3 linked regions of the Homo sapiens genome follow. The protein of the gene in region 2 interacts with the protein of the main gene of each other region in a pairwise test. Each region holds a gene or a part of one and is shown on either strand. Other genes may lie near its edges.

The links.
Region 1: the proteins of CCNK (region 2) and RFX6 interact in a two-hybrid assay, tested with the Homo sapiens proteins (one large-scale study listed by BioGRID and IntAct).
Region 3: the proteins of CCNK (region 2) and PRR20B interact in a two-hybrid assay, tested with the Homo sapiens proteins (one large-scale study listed by BioGRID).

What each region holds. Positions count from the first base shown.
Region 1 is NC_000006.12:116,915,189-116,918,842, reverse strand, and holds part of RFX6 (DNA-binding protein RFX6), read right to left. Parts: intron 2,836-3,654; coding exon 2,758-2,835; intron 2,643-2,757; coding exon 2,529-2,642; intron 807-2,528; coding exon 757-806; intron 1-756. UniProt on the Homo sapiens protein: Transcription factor required to direct islet cell differentiation during endocrine pancreas development. Specifically required for the differentiation of 4 of the 5 islet cell types and for the production of insulin.
Region 2 is NC_000014.9:99,484,398-99,488,051, reverse strand, and holds part of CCNK (cyclin-K), read right to left. Parts: intron 1,600-3,654; exon of another isoform or gene 1,594-1,599; intron 1-1,593. UniProt on the Homo sapiens protein: Regulatory subunit of cyclin-dependent kinases that mediates activation of target kinases.
Region 3 is NC_000013.11:57,145,846-57,149,599, reverse strand, and holds the start of PRR20B (proline-rich protein 20B), read right to left. Parts: upstream 2,113-3,754; 5' UTR 1,899-2,112; intron 1,745-1,898; 5' UTR 1,726-1,744; coding exon 1,674-1,725; intron 653-1,673; coding exon 39-652; 3' UTR 1-38.

The sequences.
Region 1 (3,654 bases), on a different chromosome or scaffold from region 2:
TTTAAAGACTACAATTGATAATTAAAAGACATTATTGATCAGGCTAATACCAACTATCATATAGATGAAATAATCTGGAGGAAAAGGTAAATAAAAAGTAAAATTTGTTTTACCAAGCAACATCTATTTTTGGAGCACCAACTATGTCCAGTCCTATATGAATTTGTACCCCCAAAATACTAAAATAAATTTTATCATTTCATTAGATTTTGTTTTCAGAGAAAAAGTTGGCTTTTTTTTTTCAGAATTCTATTGTTCTTATATTGAAAAGGTTTTTTTTTTTTGAAAAATCTTCTGGTATTGTTTCAATAAACTATTTGAGATTTTATTCCTTTGTTAAAAGAAGGCAGTAATTTCATCATGCCACTTTCTGATTTTGTAATTAAGACAAAAGTTAATAATAAAATACAATAATTTCTCCTATAGTTTTTATTCTTGTGGTTATTTTCCATTAATTATCTTTTTTATCATACTCCAGCTAGTTTCCATTGAAAAATTTCTCGAAGATCAACAGTGCTTAAATCTATTTTTCACTTTAGCCGCTCTCAAATTAAAGGGATTGAAGGATTGTTTCACCCATTTTGTTTATTGAGGCCCAGCTATAAGACACATCTCTTCCAGCAAATACAAAGGGACAAAAGTAGAAAATAGTCTTCTTGATAAATGAATAAATTACTACCTAATGTTTTCTTCTAATATAATGTATAAAGTTAAATCCTATACTAGGAATGCTCATGTTTTATTAACTGAACATACCTTTCAGGCATTTCTTGCATTGTTGCAGGAATGAGTACATCTGTAAGAACCTTAATCATAGCAAAAGAGGTTAATACAAATCTTTACTTAGTATTTCTATAGAAAGACATATTATTGGTCAACTACTTTTTATTCCTAGCTTCCTAGAGAATAACATGTTAACTCCTTTCTCAAAGTTATAATTTTATCTCCAAAATGAATGTATGTATGAGTTGTGTGTGAGTGTGTATGACAATAAAAACAAGAGATAGCACTGTATATGTACATGCTCAGTATGTTAATTACCAATGGATTGGTCCATGGTAATCATATACCGTTTTATGATGAAAAGCTGACCACTTTCTAGAGGTGGGAGGAAGATTTTTGTAGAAGCTCATCTTACACCGTTCTACTTACAGAGCTCACTGTGCCTCTCTGGGTCCACCATGAGGAGGAGAAACCAGGTTCATTTAAAGATATTTAAAGTCAGGATGTTTATACTAGACTAAAAAAAACAGATCACTTAAAGGGAGAAGTGTGTTTTAAAAGTATTTCTTGGACAAACTGAATGACAGTCCAAAAAGCTTTGGTCTGATGGAAATTTGTGTGCATGAGCCCCAGGTCTTTTCTTATACTCACTCACGGAGCTGCCTCCCCTCCCCTTTTGGGAGCCTTGTCAAGTGTTAAGCATTACAAACAATTAATGCAAATTAAACTGTTTTTCTCTAAATAATGGCATTCATATTCAATCCAGAAAAAAAAAAAAAAACAAGACAATCCTTACTCTCCTCTGAAATTTTTTCAACTTGAACTTGAACTAAAGGCAGAAAATATATTGTACTTTATTCCTCCTTTCTCCTATCCTGTGATGAGGAAGTACTGGACAGAGGATAAAAATATGCACTCTCTTATTCAAGTTGTCTCATTACTTCTTGGTCTGCTTAGGGGCTTCTGGACTTAGTTTATCTATAAATAGCTTTTGCTTTACTTTTCTGCAAAGCTGAGAATCTGATAGTGGCAACTAACTTAGAAGGATTTTATTTCCTAAATGTTTAACAGCGTCCAGCTTGGGTTTTCTTGCCAACTCAGATTATTTTTTAAAAGGAAAGCTTTTGTTTTTCCTTATGGTAAGTTAGAAAGCAAATGTAGGCAAACTCACTTTAAAGTACCCACATTGCAATATAGTTTTATCCATCAGCTTAGAACTTGTAGCCACCAGGGAAGAGACTGTCAAGAATTAGCCTCTTTCTGTCTTCCATTAAATGTTTGCCTAGAAGGACAATCAGTTTGTCCTTATTTAGGATGTCTTCGAGATCCTTCTGCAGACACTTAGGAACTCTGATTTGGTTTGAGAAGAGAATTAGACATTAATGCATTAAAGTTAGAGGTTTTTGAGATTTTCAAGTTATTAATCTCATAAGGGTGCCTAATTCTGCTTTCTGCCAAAACACTGGCATTGTGAAAAAAAATCCACTGTGTTATTTTAATCTGAAAACACCTTAGAGAGTTAATAAAATTTAACTAAGTTTTCACATATTAATAAGTGTGTCACATATAGACTCATTATTAGCTGTAAAAAGAAATTGAGTTTGTTTTACTTAATGTAAACTTCAATTAAAACACATACACTATTAAACGTGCACTATTAAATTGCTTGCTTTCTCATCAAAAAAAAAGACAGTGTATATCCAGCCATAAATAACATATTTACTGAAAATATATTGCAAGAATTTAGATAGAATGCTACGTAAAGAAATAAATGGCTCATGTTTAAGACATCCCAAAGTGCTTACCTTATAAAGAATTGAGTCACAAACACAGAAAATATCAATGATAACAGGATTTTCGAGCAGGGGAAGGAGATGGTCAGGCATTCCTTGCCAAAAGTGTAATAAAAAATGCTGGATCTAGTTGCAGAGTAAAAAGTATGTTAAGATTTTTTTCTTTAACATGAACTCATTAAGAACAGAACATGAAAGTATATATAATAGGGTCAAATAAAGCATTCTTTGTCATTCTTACCTCTTCAAAGTTTCCATTAATTGCATTGTCCAGGATACACTGGCAGTGAGTTTTGTACATCATTATGAGCGTATCAACCTATTTCAAGGAAGAAAAAGCTTAACCAAAGCATCCTTTTAACACTGCCTTTTCTTGTTAATTTGTTCAACACAGATTTTTTAAAAGATCCTATTACGTACCAAGCAGTATGCTCAATGTTGAGGACTCAAAAATTAAGGCAAAATTCTTATTTCAAGGATCTTACTGCCTTGTGAAGGGAGAAAAGCAAACAAATGGACAACTACAGTATAATATGAAAAAGGTAATTTTTCAGAGTACTATGGACCAAAGTAACATCCTAGTTTTATGCCTACTAAAATATTAAATTTTAAAATTTAATTTTTAATTTAAATTTAAATTTTTTAAAATTAATTTTTGGGTAAATAAACATAAAGTAGTAAAAGTAGTAACAAAGATTTGGATAAATAAACATAAAGTAGTAAAATACATCAAATCTTCACACAGTTTTATGAAGTGGATGCTTGGAGCAGTATGGCATAATGGTTTCAAATTTTGTCTCTGGAGTCAGCTCAACTTGGGTGCCCACCTTCACTGCACTACTTACCAGGTATGACTGCAAAAGTGGCTTTGTCTCTGAGCTCCCAAGCTTTTTAAGTAGGTAGTAATAACATATTACTTACATGGTGTTAAGAAAATCAAATAAAATAGGATGTGACACATATGGAACAGTGCCTGGCACCCAGTAAGACCTTACTAAACATTATCCAGAGTTAGTAATAATATCAAATGATGCATTTTCCAAAAAAAAGTTTCAAACATTGAATGTCTATTATGAAAAGTCTCTCTTTTCAAGTTACCATGGATATTTGCATAGCATAGTTTAAAAGTTTTAAATAT
Region 2 (3,654 bases):
CACAGTAAACATGGCAAAAAACGAACATGTGTCCACAGGTAAATAAGTTGTCATTGCACTATTCTTTCATACAATAAAAAGTTGGGGAAAAAGTCAGATGAGACTGAATAGGAGACCAGGAGGACTCCTTATCTTCATCAATCCCTCGATAGCCAAGGAATACTTGCTTATGTGTGGGTACTGCTTTCATAAATTACAACACTGTGATTTGAATTATAGCATACAAAAAGAAAAGTGAACTAATTATAAGTGTATGGCTGATTGTTTTTCACAAAGTAAACACACCTGTGTTAACACTATTCAGTTGAGAAAGAGAACAGTACCAACATTCCAGAAGCTCTCTTCGTTCTTTCCTAGTGACTATCCTCCCAAAGATAACTATTCTGACCTCTATTTCCATCAATTTGTTTTGCCTGTTTTTGAAGGACTGTGCGATGACACAGTACCACTTTTACATTTGGTTTCTTCTGCTCAATATTAAGTTCATGGGATTCATTCCTGTTGTTGCATAAAGCAGTATTTGTTCATTCTCACTGCCGCAGAGCAGTGGTTTTTAAACCTGGGACAATTTTGCCCCCCAGGGGACATTTGGCAATGTCTGAAGACACTTCTGGTTTTCCTAACTGGGGGGTTGCCACTGGCATCTAGTGTGGGTAGAGGCCAGGAATGTTGCTGAATGTCCTCAGTGCACAGAACAATCCCCCATGACAAGAAATTATCTGGTCCAACATGTCAATAGTGCCAAAGCTGAGAAAGTCTGCTGTACAGTACAGTTATATCCTATGAATGCAACACACTTTATCTATACATTCTACTGTTTGGGCATGTAAATGTTTCTGGTGTTTGATTATTAATAAGTGTTAAACATGTACATATATTCTTATAGAACAGAAGGCAACTGGACAGTTGGCTGAGGGAATCAATATCTTAGCACATCTTAGCAATTTATTCACAGTTGGGAATTGCTACTTTAATATACATACGCCTAACAGTTTTCCATGTACTTTTTCATTTAAATATTTCCTGAGCATTTACTATGAGCCAGGCCTTAATGGCATGGCAGGGCACAAGATAAGTAAGGTCTTTGCCCCAGGAAGCTTACATTCTAGTGGGAGAGACAATAAGAAAGAAATATATGAATATTTGTCAGGGAATCTTAAGTGCCACAAATAATAACGCATGTAAGGGGAGAGAACATAATGAGGTAAGGGCTGTTTAGAGGTATGCAGAAAGAGGAAGAGTTAGGAGATTATAGTAGCAGTTCAAGTAATGCCTAATACACCTGTCTCCACACAATGGCAGCTGGAACAAGGGGTGTGTGTGTCATAATTGGCCATGAGGCAAAGAATGGAAAAAGATGATTTCAAGTTTGACTGACACAGAGGGTGATACTAAAAAGACAAATGGATAAGACAAGAGAAAAAGCTGGTTTTGATAAGGAGGGAGGAAAAGAATTTGGCTCTATAAATACTAAGCTTGAAGAACTTTAAGATCCTTTTGTGGAAATATCTATCAGACAGATAAATAGGCCAGTTGAAGTCTCTACAGAACATATCTACTTGGGGTTCATCTACACAGAGGTGATAACTATAAAGTCATGTTGACGGATGGAGGGATGGAGAGTGAAGAAGGAAGGGGTCTGGGTACAGAACTCTGTGAACTTGTACCAAGTAGGAAGAATCACCAAAGGCGAGCGTTTGCCCAGTGACAGGAAGGTAAAACAGACTTGAATGCACTTATGATTTACCCACTTGCAGACTAAGAATCACCAAATTAGAGAAAGGGAAAAAGACTGGTCCAAGAAGTAGGGAAATTTGCATCCTTTGTTGCAAAACAAACCATGGGATGTCAGCTTTAAACCAGAGATGGTAGTCAACAGTGACAAATGCTAAAGAAAAGTTAAAGGACAAGGAACTAAGGAAAGTTTACTTTAATTGGTGATTAGTTGTTTATTAGAGACACTGAAAATTGTGATGGTTTCATGACTCTGCAAATACTAAAAACGACTGATTTGTACAGTTTAAATGGGTAATTTGTACGGTATAGGATTATATTTCAAGAAAATACATATATACACATATAAATAAAATAACATTTTTAGAAGTGCAATAGGGCAGAAGGTGTAGAAACTGCAAGGGGTGGTAAAGAATGAACAGACTAGGAAATAGGTTATTCTTTTTTATTCATTTTTTAATTTTTTGAGACAGAGTCTCCCTCTGTCATCCAGGCTGGAATGCAGTGGTGCTCACTGCAACCTCCCGCCTCCAGGGTTCAAGTGATTCTCCTGCCTCAGCCTCCTGAGTAGCTGGGATTACAGGCATAAGCCACCGTGCCTGGCTGGAAATAGGTTATTCTTTTGAGGCATCTGTTCTCAAAGAGAGTAACAGGGAATAGTAGGGAGTAGGTTTTGTTATTGTTTTGGTTTTTATATATTTTTCAGCATAAAGGAGAATGAAAAATGTCTGCAGCCAGTAAAAACAAAAAGGAATCACTAGAGGAGTCAGAACAAGGGAGGCTAACTGGTCAAGGGATAATAAAAAGCACAGCAAGAAAGTTAACCTTAGAAAGAAAGCTCTTTCTTCCCCTGAGAATGGAAGGAAAAGTTTGAGAAAGATATTTTTAAATAATCTTTTAAGGGGGAGGAAGTAACTAAAAAATCTCAAGAGTACCTCCATATTCTCTAGGAAGTATAATGCCAAGATATCTGTTGAGGGGAAAGGGGCAGAACGGGGAACAGTGTTAGGAATACCCCAGTAGGGATGAAACTGGAATGGAAAAGAACCTCGGTCCACAAGCGGATAAATCGTAAGTATATTCAATTGTTTTACCTTCTGTAACTGGCCAAACTCCTGGTCCCTTTAGGTTCCAAGGCAGAATATAAACAATTCATGAAATGTAGTGAAAATATTATGGACATAAACAGAATAGAGACAGTCCTCAAAATCGTAGAACTCCCTGAAAAAGTTTTTGCCTCAGGTCTATAAACCTGTTCCCTATTACTCTTCAATTATTTTTTCACAAGACCCTAAAGTTGTAAGTTTTCTCATTAGTAGCTTGTGATTCCTCTGAAAATGACTGAGATTTATGAACTCTGCAAAATGAAAATCCATAAACAAGCAACCTGTCAAGGCATTTTAGCAGCACCTTTCAGGAATGTGCTTCATAAATATCATTTTACATCATAAAAGACTAAATATATTTTCAACATTTAGAATTATGGAAACAATAGTAAATGTCACCACTCAATTATCTCACCCAATATCGAAATCCCCTCTTAGTAATATTTGGCCACTTATCAATGAAACCTCATTAGTTTACAAAACAGCCTATGGCATTGCTGGGTATCAATAACTGGTGTTCACATAATTCCTGTATTCCTATATTGATTTTTATCTGTCCTGTTCATCCCCTAGATCTGCTACACAGATGGCATAAAATAATGCATGAATGAAATCTACCTTTTAGCGACTCTTTAACTTCTACCAGGGTCCTTAAACTAAGCCTTGAAAATACATTTCCCTTATCTATTGATTGTCTTTCAAACAGGTAAAAGCAATTTTTACATTCTCTTCTCTAGGGTAAACAAATCTAACCATTTTTCTCATCATGATTTTTCTTTTTTTTTAGTGTTTCAAGTCCTCCCTAAATATTAGG
Region 3 (3,754 bases), on a different chromosome or scaffold from region 2:
GAAGGGAGGCTGGGAACAACGTGGGTGGCAGATAGTGGTCAATACGCAATGTCGGTGAGGAACACTGGGACCCCTTGCACGTAGGTGCCCTGGGGGGTTTGAATGACTTGTAAAACCGCTGAGTCACCCAGAGCCCTAAACCCGATGCAGGGATAGAGGGTCAAGACGGGTTGCCAGTCAACAGCCTGAGGCCCAGGAGCAGCGGGCGGCTCCTGAAACCCCAGCTCAGGTTGCGCCACGTCGGGGCCAGGGCCTTCCTGCACAGTTCCAGGCGGAGGACCTGTTTCAGAAAGGGAGAAGGCTGCGGTCTCCGTGATTTCCGGTTCCCCCTGGTGGCCTGGCTCTCCATGGTGGTCCAGTTGGATGTGCACGTCCGGTGCCATCAAGCCTTCTGCCCCCTGTCTCTGGCCAGCGTCCCCGCGGGGCCCAGCCCTTCTGCCACGGCCTCGCCCTGGCCGCCGGCTTCCTCCCCGGCGCCGGCCTCTCTCTGCAGGAGGGGGTGACTCTGGGCGAGCTGGGGGCTGCCGTCTGAAGGGTTTCACGTAAGCGATGGGTTTTGCGGGTTGGGCTGGCTGTGCGGGCCCATCTGCTTCCACGGAGCCTTCAGGGTCCGCAACACAGCAGCCTGGCTCTGGAGGAGGCCCACCTGAGGCTAAAAGAGAAGCGGAGCGTGAGCAGAGAGAGACAGAAGGAACTTCACCCGTCAAGCAGTTATAGGATACTTTTACAAATAAATACTCAGAGAAAAGAGGGATTTCTGAAGTTAAAATTGTGAGAGAAGAAACAAAACTCTCCACGGAAGTTGGAGAATGAAGTTGAGAAGGTCTCCCACAGAACAAAGCAAAAACCTAAAATGATGGAAAGAAGGATGAAATATAAGAGAATTAGAGGTATGCTGTGGCTGAGACATTTCACCAGAAAATTTCAGAGTGCTGAGGAAAAAGAGAAGATTCTAACAGATTCTAGAGAGCGGGAGACAGAGAAAGGAAAAGTCACATGGAAAGGGCTAGGATTCCACATGTCTCAAAAGTCAGACATCTCAAAAGCAGCAGTTCAGTCTAGAACATAACAGAAAATGTCTTCGAAATTTCAAGGGAAATGAATTTCCCACCTAAAATTTCCTGTCCAACCGAAGTTTCGCTGAAGAATCTGGGAGGGGAGAATGAAGATGTTTCAGACAAGCAAGATGTTAAAGAATTTCCTTTCAGTGGATGCTTTATTGTTATGCATCTGTCAAACTAGACAAGATTAAAAGATTTAGGACACTCAGCGTATGAAGGGAAATGTTTTGGAGAACAACGTGGCAACAGCCGGAAAATTCCAACTCCTCCGGGAAAGAACAAGGTGGAAGTACCGGTTTATCATAGATCAAGACGTAGCGTGAGGACTCGCTCTGCTACGGAGAAACAGTAATACAAAACTAAACAGAAGGAAACAGCGACAACAACAGCAAATCTCAGATTTGGGAAATGGGATTACGGTTCGGAAGAGGGAAAGGAATTTCCCAGATGATGTGGAACCCGGGAGCTGACTTCCAACAAGCAGCCCAGGTTGAGGCAGGCTAGGAGAAGGTGAAACAGAGAATGCTTGATTGAGTTTGAGTGTCAACCATTGGGGAAGAATTGGGGAACAGACGAAATTAAAAAGAGAGGAGTGGCAGGCGTTTGATGTACCTTGATTAGGGGCCATGGAGCGAAGTCGCTTCGAAGGCCTTGGTTCCTCCATGAGCAATCGGCGGGAGGGGCTGGGGAGAAAAACAAGAGAGCAAGAACGGATTTAGGAAGACAGAGGTGACAAGGCAGGGGGATGGCCGTGGCCTTTCTAGGGGAATGAGGATTCTGTCCCCAACTGCACCCACCCGAGATCCGTCCACGCCTCCGGGACCCCCAGACACACACCTGATCTTCCCACAGCTGGCTCCGGAGATCTGAAAATTAGGAGACTCTTCGACGAAGAGAGGCCCGAGGAGTCGGAGGTGTCCACAGGTTCACCGCTGTAGCTCTGAGGTAGTCCACCCGCAGCCAGGGAGTCTGGAGGGAGCACGCAGCAGGTTCTGGCTCCGAGCCCAGCAGAAAGCCGACTGCTGGAGGCCGAGCGCCGTCCCTCTTATATGGCAGCAAGGCAGTCGCGTAAGGGACAGGCGTCGTCAGAGGGGGGCCGGCTGGGGCGGGCCTGGCTGGGCTTGCGAGGCGCATTGGGCCAGTCCCCTGCCAGTCAAATGGGGGCCCTTCTGAGATGCCGCCATTTCTAGACGTCCGTGGTTGATTGATTAATCTAATCATCGAGGAAAAAAAATTGCATAATGACCTCTGAGTGTCAGCACAATGAGGTGTGGTGCCCTGAAAGCGGCTGACAGGAAGATGCGATTAGCTTAGATCTGAGCATGGTCAAGGAAAGCATCCAAAGCGGGGATATCTGGGCTGAAATCTGGAACATAACGTTTGAAATTAGTCATCCTGAACCGGGTTGGGAGAGGCAGGGAGGGAGGAAGGGGAGTGAAGAGAGTGTGCTGAGGCCCGGACTGGAAGGGAGCCCGGCACATTCTGGGAATGGACGGGAGGCCAAGTCCAGGCCCGGAGGTGGTGCGAGGTGGAGGCAGGGTCCGCGCAGGAGCTGGTCTTGTTCCAAGGCAGCGGAAAACCGTGGAACGGTGTCCGGCAGCGGGTTAACATTTCAGAAACGACCAGCCTGGCTGTGAAGGAGCGCCAACCCAGGGTCCGCAGAATAAGTCAGGAGAGGCAAGAAGGCTATTGCAGCCCTCGGGGTTGGGCGCAGGGTGCTGTTAGACTGAGACTCAGGGAGGTAGAGGAGGAGAAAGTTCCCTGGTGGGAGAGAAATTTCCAAGAGAAAGCGAGACCCAGTGTGGACAGCCCTTGAGGAAGAGACTGCGGCCTTGGTAGCCCGCCGGTTCATTCAGGCAGAGGTGGACCGAGAACCTGCTCTGAACGGGAAGTTGCGGAGCTTGGCTTGCGCACATCTGGTTGAAGGGGCTTTTGAACTGCCAAGTGAGGATGTCAAGTGGCCTTTTGTAAAAAGAGTCGAGCTCAGCGCGATGGCGACGGGGCTGGAGATGCGTGTGAGACCCACACCGCTGGCTTTTATTGCTGTGGGTGCACTCACGGGTGGAGGAAGACAGCGGGAAACACAGCAGGACGCTGGAGGGGATCCCACAGTGGGTTATTTGGTTGGTTTGCATCCTTGTGTCTTTTACAGAGACGGGTTCTCGCTCTGTAGCCCAGGCTGGAGTGCAGCGGTGCCATCTCGGCTCGCTGCGGCTACTTGGGGTGGGGCGGGGGGGGGGGGGGGGCTGAGATAGGAGAATCAGTTCAAGTGATTCTCCTGTCTCGGCCTCCGGAGTAGCTGGACTACAGGTGAGCGCCACCACATCGGGATAATTTTCGGATTTTTTTGGAGAGACGAGGTTTCGCTATGTGCCCAGGCTTGTTTGGAAGGCCTGAGCTCAAGCCGTCCGTCCCGCTCAACCTCCCGAGTCGCTGGGACCCCAGGCGCAAGCCACCATGCCCGGCCAATTATTTTTTTGGGTTGTATTTCCTGTTGAAGTGAGGTTTTGCTATGCTTTCACCTCACATACCTTTTCTGTCCCAAGACCCCATCCAGGGTACCACCTTACAACTCGTCACGGTTCCCCTTGGCTGCGACGGTTTCTCACACTTGCCTTGTTTTTGATGACCCTGACACTTTGAATACTGATCAGATATATTGTGGGATGTCCTCTCCTGAAGTTCGTGTGATG